Regions from separate parts of the Homo sapiens genome. Here region 1 is linked to region 2. The links come from fine-mapping of genetic effects on gene expression. A gene starts in region 2. The other region holds a variant in brackets. All regions are shown on one strand. Distances are from middle to middle.

The links. PIP is the estimated chance that this variant, and not a neighbour inherited with it, causes the effect.
Region 1: its variant is the best candidate, but not a certain one, in a credible set for the expression of CAMKK1 in whole blood (TOPMed, PIP 0.53).

What each region holds. Positions count from the first base shown.
Region 1 is chr17:3,868,062-3,873,362 of GRCh38, forward strand. It overlaps CAMKK1 (calcium/calmodulin dependent protein kinase kinase 1), which reads right to left. Exons shown (of 16, transcript NM_032294.3): 12 at 4,493-4,566; 13 at 1,740-1,827; 14 at 1,426-1,554. Among named protein-coding and RNA genes, the nearest start is that of CAMKK1, 22 kb to the right of the region's middle. RefSeq lists enhancers at 1-235, 236-735. The variant T/C (reference allele first, on the strand shown) is at 2,405.
Region 2 is chr17:3,890,272-3,895,631 of GRCh38, forward strand. It overlaps CAMKK1 (calcium/calmodulin dependent protein kinase kinase 1), which reads right to left and starts at 2,782. Exons shown (of 16, transcript NM_032294.3): 1 at 2,668-2,782. RefSeq lists silencers at 2,089-2,338, 2,479-2,658, 2,689-3,228.

The sequences.
Region 1 (5,301 bases), 22 kb before region 2:
AGCAGGCGCAGTCTAACTGATACGTGGGCTCTGGGGGAGAAGCAGGCGCCGTCTAACTGATACGTGGGCTCTGGGGGAGAAGCAGGCGCCGTCTAACTGATACGTGGGCTCTGGGGGAGAAGCAGGCGCCGTCTAACTGATACGTGGGCTCTGGGGGAGAAGCAGGCGCCGTCTAACTGATACGTGGGCTCTGGGGGAGAAGCAGGCGCCGTCTAACTGATACGTGGGCACGGGGGAGATGCAGGCACCGTCTAACTGATACACAGGATCTGGGGGAGACGCAGGCACTGCCTGATTGATACGCGGGCGCTGGGGGAGACGCAGGCCCATCTAACTGATATGTGGGCTCTGGGGGAGACACAGGTGCTGCCTAACTGATACGTGGGCTCTGGGGGAGACGCAGGCGCCGCCTAACTGATACGTGGGCTTTGGGGCCACTCCTCCAATCCAAAGGCTGCCCAGGCCGTTCCCCTGCCTTGTCCTCGGCACCTTGTGCAGTGCCTGGAGAACGGAAGCTCAGTAACTGTCTGGACGGAATGAAATGCTTCTTCCAGTCACGGTGACTGCTGCCGCTGAGCAAGGGCCATCTATTTCTTTCTTTTTTTTTTTGAGATGGAGTCTCGTTCTGTCAACCAGGCTGGAGTGCAATGGCGTGATCTTGGCTCACTACAACCTCCACCTCCCAGGTTCAAGCGATTCTCCTGCCTCGGCCTCCCCAGTAGCTGGGACTACAGGTGCCCACCACTGCGCCCGGCTAATTTTTTTGTATTTTTAGTAGAGGTGGGGTTTCGCCGTATTAGCCAGGATGGTCTCGATCTCCTGACCTCGTGATCCACCCGCCTCGGCCTCCCAAAGTGCTGGGATTCCAGGCGTGAGCCACCGCGCCCGGTATTTCTTTCTTTTCTTTTCTTCTTTTTTTTTTTTTGAGACGCAGTCTCGCTCTGTGGCCCAGGCTGGAGTGCAGTGGCGCGATCTCGGCTCACGGCAAACTCCACCTCCCGGGTTCACACCATTCTCCTGCCTCAGCCTCCCGAGTAGCTGGGACTACACGCGCCCGCCACCACGCCCAGCTAATTTTCTATATTTTTAGTAGAGTCGGGGTTTCAAGGATGGTCTCGATCTCCTGACCTCGTGATCTGCCCGCCTTGGCCTCCCAAAGTGCTGGGATTACAGGCGTGAGCCACCGCGCCCGGCCCCACGCCCGCTATTTCTTTAAATCAGTCACTCTCCTCACCAAGCCTCCTGGTCTCCCGACCACAAGACCTCCCTCTCCATGGGCCTCCAGCAGAATGGCGGCTCCAGTGGCCCAGGATCACAGCTGGCTGGCCAGGCAGGCCTCTGTCCCCCCAAGGAGCCAGGCACAGAGCAAGGCTCAGGTCCCCCAGGCCCTCCAGGACAAGGGAGCATCTACCCCGGCTCTCTTACCACCGTGGTCCAGCTGGGGATGAGCCTGACTGAGTTCTTAACCTCCTCCTCTGTCACCTCCACCACGCTGCAGTGCTCCTCCTCCGAAGGAAGGGGCTCCTCCCCGTTCTTGGTCACCCAAGGGTGCAACTGTCGGGGCCGGGAGGGCAGGGAGAGGGGGAGAGGTCAGGCCATTACCAGAATCACCTGGAGGGGTCCAAAGTCCACAGACTCAAACCCAACACACATGCATCCTGGTGTTGATCCCTCCAGAAAGGGAAAGTGACTCCTGTTTTCTGTGTCCCAGCCCAGCCCAAGACCCCCAGTTCCCCGACCTTGATGTCTGGCACCCCAATTCTCGTCTCGGGATTCTTGTCTAACATCTTCAGGATCAGGTCCTTGAGCTCCTCGCTGATTTCTGGCCTGGAGAGGGCGAAGGAAGGAGAGGAGGGTGGGACCGCTGATGAGGACCCCTTCCTGTCCACCTCTCTTCCCGAAACCTTCGTCCCTCGGATGGGAAGACTGAGTTCCGGACAGCAGGCAGGAATTTCACAACAAGGGCTTGGAGAGCCTTTCCTGAGCAGGAGGTCAAGTCTCCCTCCAGGACAGAGGCACAGACAGAGTTCCATGGGTGCTGGACACCCCAATGGGTGGCAAAGATGGTGAGGAGAGTCGCTTTATGGGACACCAGAGGCCTTCAGACCCACTCACCACCTCGTCCTTTTCTACACCCAGAGAAGATCCTCTCTCATTTGACAGAGGAGGAAACTGAGGCCCAGGGAGGTTAGCAGGCTGGCACAGTGCCAGCCAGAAGAGTGCAGGCAGAGATGGGAGACTCAGATGGGAGGGAGCAGCCCCCTCAGCGCCACATCAGCTCCAACTCTCTCTGCCCAAACCCCAGGGTTCTTTTTTTTTTTTGAGATGGAGTCTCGCTCTGTGGCCCAGGCTGGAGTGCAGTGGCGCAATCTCGGCTCACTGCAAGCTCCGCCTCCCAGGTTCA[T/C]GCCATTCTCCTGCCTCAGCCTCCCGAGTAGCTGGGACTACAGGTGCCCGCCACCGTGCCCGGCTAATTTTTTGTATTTTTAGTAGAGACGGGGTTTCACCGTGTTAGCCAGGATGATCTCGATCTCCTGATCTCATGATCCGCCTGCCTTGGCCTCCCAAAGTGCTGGGATTACAGGCGTGAGCCACCACGCCCGGCCAAACCCCAGGTTTCTTTGCCACCAGTGGTCTTGGGGAGCCCATCCTTCCAAGACTAGGGAGCAGAAAGCCACTCTCAGGACTGTTGACTTCGGTTCCCCCTGTTGTCTTAGATGCTTCATCCCTTTTAAAATTCCTGGGCTGAGGGGAAAGACACCCCTCAGCAGGGGGTATAGCAGGAAGAGAGGCACCAGGGGTACAACTGTGGAGGCAGGGAGGGAAGGCAACCACAGGATGAGGAGGAAATGGACAGAAGCCAGCTGGCTGGTGCTCGGGAAAGGGAGTGAGGCGGCCCCAGACGAGCGGGTGGCAGAACCCGGAGACGTGTGAATGCTAGCGCCAGGGTGTGGCTTTGAGAAGCTTCAGACAAACTTCAGGCAAGAGATGCAGGCAGATTTGTTGTGCTTTATCAGGGCTGTCCCCGCCTGAATGTGTTGGCTGGACTGGAGGGAGGCCAGCAGCAGCGAGACCAGGGGGAAGGTGGCTAGATAAGTCTGGGGAGGGGCCTGAGGCCTGAATGAGGCAAGGGGTATAAGTGGCAACAAGGCCCAGAGACAGGGAAGAGGAGGGCTCAGCAGGGCTTGGGGACCACACAGGAAATAAGCAGAAGAGAGCAGGAGTCGCTGAGTACAAGTCCCGTTTCATTTTCTTTTTTTGTTTGTTGTTTTTTGTTTTTTTTTTTTTGTTTTTTTTTTTTTTTTTTTTTTTTTGAGACAGAGTCTCGCTCTGTCGCCCAGGCTGGAGTGCAGTAGCACGGTCTCAGCTCACTGAAACCTCTGCCTCCCGGGTTCACGCCGTTCTCCTGCCTCAGCCTCTCGAGTAGCTGGGACTACAGGCACCCGCCACCACGCCCGGCTAATTTTTTTTCTATTTTTAGTAGAGATGGGGTTTCACCGTGTTAGCCAGGATGGTCTCGATCTCCTGACCTCGTGATCCGCCCTCCTTGGCCTCCCAAAGTGCTGGAATTACAGGTGTGAGCCGCCGCACCCGGCCTTATTCAGTTTCTTTCTTCTGTTTTTTTTTTTTGAGACAGAGTCTTGCTCTGTCGCCCAGGCTCACTGCAACCTCTGCCTCCTGGGTTCAAGCAATTCTCGTGCTTCAGCCTCCCGAGTAGCTGGGACTACAGATGTGCGCCACCACGCCTGGCTAATTTTTGTATTTTTAGTAGAGATGGGGTTTCACCATGTTGGCCAGGCTGGTCTCTAACTCCTAACCTCAGGTGATCTGCCCACCTCAGCCTCCCAAAGTGCTGGGATTACAGGCGTGAGCCACCGCACCCGGCCTCCATTTCACTCCTGAAATCCACTGCTGAAAAGAGGAGCCTGGGAGCTCAGGCTGTGGCTGCCACGGTGGCCGTCATGAGGCGAACCATGCATGAGCAAGAGGCCTCCCCGACGTCCCTGCTACGCTCAGAGACCTCGGTCACAATGGGAAGAGTGGGGAGGAAGAGTGGCTTGAGTCCCAGCCCCCTGACCGCTCTCCTCCAGAGCATCCTCTTTTCCATCTGTGAAATGGGGAGCACGCACTGGCATCTTGAAGTTCCCTGACCCTGAGTGGGGGAAGGAGAAGTTCCCCTTGAGTCCAGGGGCTGGGTGGGGCTGGCGCCACTGACCCCAGGCAGGCCTGCGGTGAAGGAGTGGTGTGAATGATGCCTGTGGTCATCCCTGGCCAACCCTGGATCTCAGGGTTCCCATCCACACAGTGACGTTGCGGAGACCCTTGGCTCCAGAGTCCCTCCCGTCCATCTATTCAGGGGTCCCTCCCAGGGAACAGCACCGCCACCTTCATATCTGCAGGCTGGGGTGGGGTCCTCAGAGGGCAAAAGCTCTGCTAAAACTCAGACACCAGGAGCGGGTGGTAGCCCCCTTGTTCCCCTGGGTGGACAACTCACTCCTCAGGAAACACCACGGGCTCATTCTTGATCTTCCTGTGGAGGGCCAGGATGAAATCGTCGATGAATGGGCACTGTGGGGTGGAGAGGCAGACAAAGGATGTGGGTCCAGGGCCTCGACCTGTGCCAGGGGATCAACCCCCCTCCCTTGGTGGGGGCAGGGGTAGGGGGCAGGTCTGGGCTCCCATTACATGAGAAGGACCTCAACTCACACTGTAAATGTTCAACAAATGTTGACTGAATGAATGAGTTGCTGAGGGAACAATGAGGCTGGGTGCATCCACCGCCGTTACTGCCACCCGCGGCCAGGCCAGGCCAGGCTGGGTGCACCCACCACCATTACCGCCACCTGTGGCCAGGCCTCCACTCCCAGGGCCTGGGGCTTGGGAACATGTTCACTGAAATTCCCCCCTGCCCCTTAGTGTGGTCACCAGAGCAGGCACACCTGCGGGCAGGGATCACCGATACGTCAGCGTTGGGTGTCCCCAGGGTCCAGCCTCAGCCAGGGTAGGGGTGAAGGACAATTTGTCGAATAAATGAGCAAGGGAGTGAACACATGGCTCAATAAGTGAATGGCGTCAAGGGACAGAGGGACGGGGAGCACTCTGGCTGGGGCGGTGGCAACACCATCGTCGGCACCTCCCCTTAGGTGTCTGCTGTCCTGCGACTCCTTCGCGAGAATCGCTCCGCAGGGGACCAGAGAAAGATAGAAAAAGCCTCTTCTCTCTCAGCCTTCTCTGAGCCAGGTGGGCTCTTTCAAAAGCCACTTAAGGACAAAAAGGAAGAGCCTGCATCCGTCGCCCGTGCCC
Region 2 (5,360 bases):
CTGCTGTGAGGACGCCCGCTCCCACCATCCCTGGGGAGCCCCCAAGCACCAATACGGGCTGTTGCCTGACTCAGCACAGCTACCCCCAGCGCATCGTCCTGGCCCACCCACGGAGGCTGATGGTCTCCAGGCCTCATCCTCTGCCCCTCCTCATCCTCCACACCAGGTCTGTGCCTCCAGCCCCACTCTTTCCAGCTAGCTGCCACCTCCCCGTCCATGTTCCCGAGCAGCTCAGATCCAACAGGCCCCAGATTCAACTCAGCATCTTCCCCAAACCTGCTCGTCCTCCTCTGTCTCCATTGCGAGACGGGTACCACACCCTCCCCATTCTTTCCTGACCCAGGTCAGCAATCCGGGAGCCCTCCTTGTCACTCGTCCTTTCCCTGTTGCCCACCCTTGCTCCCCACAACCCCACACTTACTCTCCACTGCAGCCACACCACAGCTTCCCAAATTGCATACTCTGTTCTGCTGCCAGGCCTCAGTACAAGCTGTGCCTTCTGCCAGGAACACACCTCCCTCTCCTCTGCTGCCTGGAGGACAGCTCAGACATCGCCTCTTCTGAGCCCTCCTTGATCTCCCCACTACCTGCTGGGTGAGCTCACCAAGTCAAACCCCTTAGAAGTCCAGATTCTACCCACTGCTTCGTTTCCCACTATGTGGGTCTTCCCTGACTCCAGGCTAACACCTCCACCCCACCCTACCCCATCCTCCACACCAGCTGCTGGAGGGATTTCCAACATGCAAATGTGGTTATAGTTCTCCCAGACCTGGCCTTCCAGGAACTCGGAATGTCATGGATAGAGGAGCAGAAGTGGCCTCAGACTGGGGGCAAGGTTGGGGGGGGGGTCACAGGCTAGGGAGCAGCCAGGGACATGGACGCCTGGGATGCAAGCACAAATAGTCACGGAGCACCTGCTGTCTGCCAGACTCTGTGCAAGCCTGTGTGGGGAGATACAGCAGTGAACCAAAAAGACCAAGTCTCTGCTCTCATACAGTTTAATTTCTCGTGGGGGCAAGAAGCAACAAACAAGAAAGCCAGTGATTCAGATATGATATGTCAAGTGGTACATATAGGAAGAAAAATACAGCCGAGTAAGAAGGATCAAGAGAAAGGGGCTGGGAGATGCTGCTGATACAGTGTAGTTGAGGAAGGCCTTTTGGGAGCAGGACTGGAGCAGACACCTGAAGGAAGGAAGGGGCAGTAGGCAGTGTAGTTATCTGGGGAAGAGCATTTCAGGTGCAGGGACCAGCAGGTGCAAACGCCATGAGGGGACAGTGCTTGCTCAGTATGAAGAACAGCAGGGAGGCTGACGTGGCTGGAGTGGAGTCTTCCCCACATAAGAGGCACCTGATAGCAAGAGGAGTTACATCTGGAGAGAAAGCCCCCTCACTCATTGTGCTGGCCTCAGGGATGGCTTCCTAGAGGAGGTGGCACCTGAGCTCTCTTCTGAGCACTGAGCAGGATTTCAGGATGAGGCGAGGATGGAAGTTTGCACTGTGCATATAGGAGAGTCATTTCCTGGCTGGGACTCCGGGCTTGGTTTGGGGGTGGGGAGAGCTTGGTGGACAGAGCCCAGGAGGCCCCCAAAGCCAGGGGGAGGTTGTGAGCAGGGGAGTGCCTCGGTTAGGTGAGGTTTAAAACGACTCCCATGGCTGCTGTGAGGACTGACGGTGGGAGACCGAGGAAGAGGCGAAGGGTCCCCAGAGTGTGTGCGCCTGGGACGCAGTGGGGGGTCAATTTGTATGTACTGGAGGAAAGAGGGCAGGGCTTGGGGAGGCCAGCGCCACTTCCCTGGGATCCTCCAGCGCGCACAGGCTGTGTGCCCCTCCCACACTCCTGTGCCCGCCCTGCGGACACCACCAAGGCCCGGTCCTGTGGCCTGTGACACAGCCTTCTCTGCACAGCCCTGCAACGCCAAGACTTGAGCACACCCCCTCCCCTGACAGGCACACGCCCGTGTCCGCGTGACCCGCCCTCACACACCACTCCATCCTGTCCTGCACCCCCCACGCAGACACAGGCACACTCCCGCGTCCACGTGACACACGCACACCCGCCTCCAAACAGCACACGCAGGTCCCTGCGCACGTGGACACCCCCCCAGCCACCAGCCCTGCGCCTCCCGGGCCCCGAAGCCGCAGCGCCCGCCTCTGCCGCCCCCTCTCGCCCCAGCCAAGGCAGGACCCTGCGCAGCCTGAGCCGCGCGCCGCCGCCGCCCCATTCATCTCCCACCCCGCCCCCGGCTCCTGCAGGAAGACGCTCCGGCGGGCCGTGGGAGGAGCGCTCCGCGGAGAACCGCACGTGGGTGCCCCGGGCCGGGCCCACTCCGCACAGACGTGGCCTCCACCAGGAGCCGGGCGCGGGGGACAGTGCACCGGGGATGGATGCGGTCCGCAGACAGAAGCGGGGAAGAACGCAGACGGCGGGGCACCCGCGGCGATGCGGTCCCGGCGGCCGGCGCAGACCCGAGCAGACTCCGCGAGGCACCCCGCAGACCCGGCCCCGCAGACAGAAGGGGAAGGATCCCCGCCCTGACCAGATCCCAGCTCCCTCGTAGACGCGGCCTGGCAGACCCCCCCCGCCTCTCCCTTGCAGGCTCGGGGCAGGTGTTAAGGCGTTCGTCCTCCTGCTCCTCGCCCGCGTCCCCGCCCCGCCGATCCCTACCTGGGCGCCGGGCGACAGTGTCCGCGGCCCGGCGGGCGGCCCCACTCGCTCCTGCTGCGCGCCCCGCCCCGCCCCGCCCCGCCCCACCGCCTCGCTGGGGCCCAGATCGCCGAGCTCAGCCCGCGGGCGCCGCGGCTCCGGGCAGCGCTCGCTGCCCCGCCCACCGCCGCGCCCGGCCGGCGCTCATTGGTCGGAGCGAACGGCCCCGCCAGCGCCGCCCAATCGGAGCCCGGGACTCCCGCCCCCTCCTGGACTAAGGGACCGCGGTGGGCGGCGCGGTAGGGGCCCTCCCTCCCCTGCGGCGGGGCCGACCTCGCCACGCCCCCGGCGTCCTGGGGTCCCCGAAGTCCCTCCCGGCCGCGGCGTGGGCCCTTCTCCTGGGCCTGCAGGGGACCGTGCTTCCCCGCCAAACCCTTTGCGCCCCCATCCCGGCCTGCAGGAGCCAGAGCGCCCCTCCCTCCCGGGCGAGGCGCGGTGCGTGCGAGGGAGGGGCGAGGCCCGGGGAGGAAGGCCTTGAATGGCAGGCCCAGGAGTGTAGCTTCTGCGGGGCGGGGGCAGAGAGGCCGAGAGGTGGCTTAGCACAGAGTGAAGTGCTTGCTCGGTGAGCCGGCGACAGGAATGGCCTAGCGAGGGCCGAGGGAGTAGAGGGAACTCAGCAGGACAGTGAGGTGACCTTCGCTGTGGCTGTTCCTGGGGACTCTGCCGCCACCTCTTCCCCTAACGCCTCCGCGTGTGAATCCTCTGGCACCACCACTTGCCCCATATCCTTCCCCCAAATCTAACCTCCTGCGTCCCTGTCTCGAAGTGGAGCCAGGAGCCTGGGAGTCACCTGCTGCCTCCCTGTTTCCTGCTCCAACCAGTCCATCTCCAGGCCCTGCCATACTGCCTCTTAACTATCCCTGGAATCGGCCCACTCCTCTCCACCCCACTTCCCCTCCCTTAGCTCAGGCTACCACCATCTTGTCCCTGATTGCTGCAGCAGCCTCCTCCCTGGCCTCCAGCCCCATCCAGTCTCACCTCCTACTAGCCTTTCTCTCCCTGGCACCCAGAGCAAGTTTTCAGGAACACAAGTCCACCGAGAGGCATTTTCTATGGCTCACCGTGAGAATAGGTCTAATCAAGCCCTGTATAGCCTTACTCCCAGCCACCTGCCTGTTTAACGCCTACTCGTCTTTCAGGGTTCAATTCAATCCTACTTCTGCCTGGAAACCTTCTCCATGACCTCCCCACTTCCAGCATGGGTTAGTGGCCCCACCCAGGTACTTCCTTGTACCTGGCATCTGTTTACCTGCTGGTTCCTCATTGGGACTGGGAGCTCCTGGATGGCAAGCACTGTGCCTGATTCGTCCAGCACACAGCCTGTCGCATGGCACAGGTGCTCAGTGGATGTTGTTGAATGAATAATTCCAGCAACTTGAGTGTGGCTTTTGACCTCATGGTTCAGGATACCAGCTAGAGCTCCAGCAATCACATAACGCATTCCAGGCAGTGGAGTGGAGAAAAGGATGAAGAAGAGGGCAGAGGGTCTGCACCAGCTCTCTTTTCAGGAAAGTTCCCAGAAGTTGCCACGTGGCACTTTCACATACACCGCTTGAGCTTACTTAACATGACCAGACCCAGCTGCAAGAGAAAGCTGGGAAATGCAGCTTCCATTCTGGGCAGCCACATGCCCAACCAAGAACCAAGGACTGAATTGCTACCGGGAGAACAGATATCCGGAACAACTAGTGGACTCCACCATTGAGAGGGTGGATAGATTGAGGGGCAGAGCTCGACTGTATGCCAGGTGCTGTTTACAGGTCTTTCCTCAACCCTACTAAAAGCTATTATTGTCCGGGTGCAGTAGCTCATGCCGGTAATCCCAGCCCTTTGGAAGGCTGAGGTGGAGCGTATCATTTGAGCCCAGGAGTTTGAGAACAGCCTGGTCCACATAGTGAAACTCTGTCTCTATTTAAAAAAAAAAAAAAAAAGAAGTTGTTATTATCCTTGACTCACAGAGGAGGCTTGGAGAGTTAAGCCACTTCCCCCAAGGACACACAGTGAACTGTGGCAGAGCTGCAATTGAAACCTGTCTTTTCCTTGCACGCCAGACAGGCTGGGAAGTCAGGAAAGGGTGTGTCCTAGGAGCTGCTGGAAGGAAATCTTTCGACAAGGAAGGCTTGGACAACAATGTGAGAAGCTGTCAGGCCAAGCAGGATATGGGGCCCAAGTGTCTGCTTAAGACTTGGCAACCAGGACACTGCCAGTGACCTTGGCAAGGGCACCTAGGAGAAGTGGTTGGGGTGGAGGCCAATTGCAGAGGGAAGTGTGGACTGGTCTTTCTGGAAGGGTTGCAGTGAGGGGAGAGGGGCAGAGCTGCTGGGGAACCTGGGCCAGGAGGAGGCAGAAGAGGGGGACAGATGTAGGGGTAGGAGAATGGAGGTGGCTTCTGCTGGGCAGCCTCTGGGCTGGGTGGTGAGGCTGAATACAGAGGAGGGACCCTTTTCTGCTCACTTGGAAGGGAAGGGGGCAGAAAGTGCAAAAGCAGGTGTGTCTGGAGAAAGAAGGGGGGGCAGAAGAGGAAGTTCCAGTCTTATAAAATCTAAATGATAGGTCTTGGTTGGGGAAGAGGGCAGAAGGCCAAGGCCCTGAGGGAGATGGCAGGGGCTGGCCTGTGTTGTCCAGTCTGGTAGCCACTAGTCACATGTAACTAT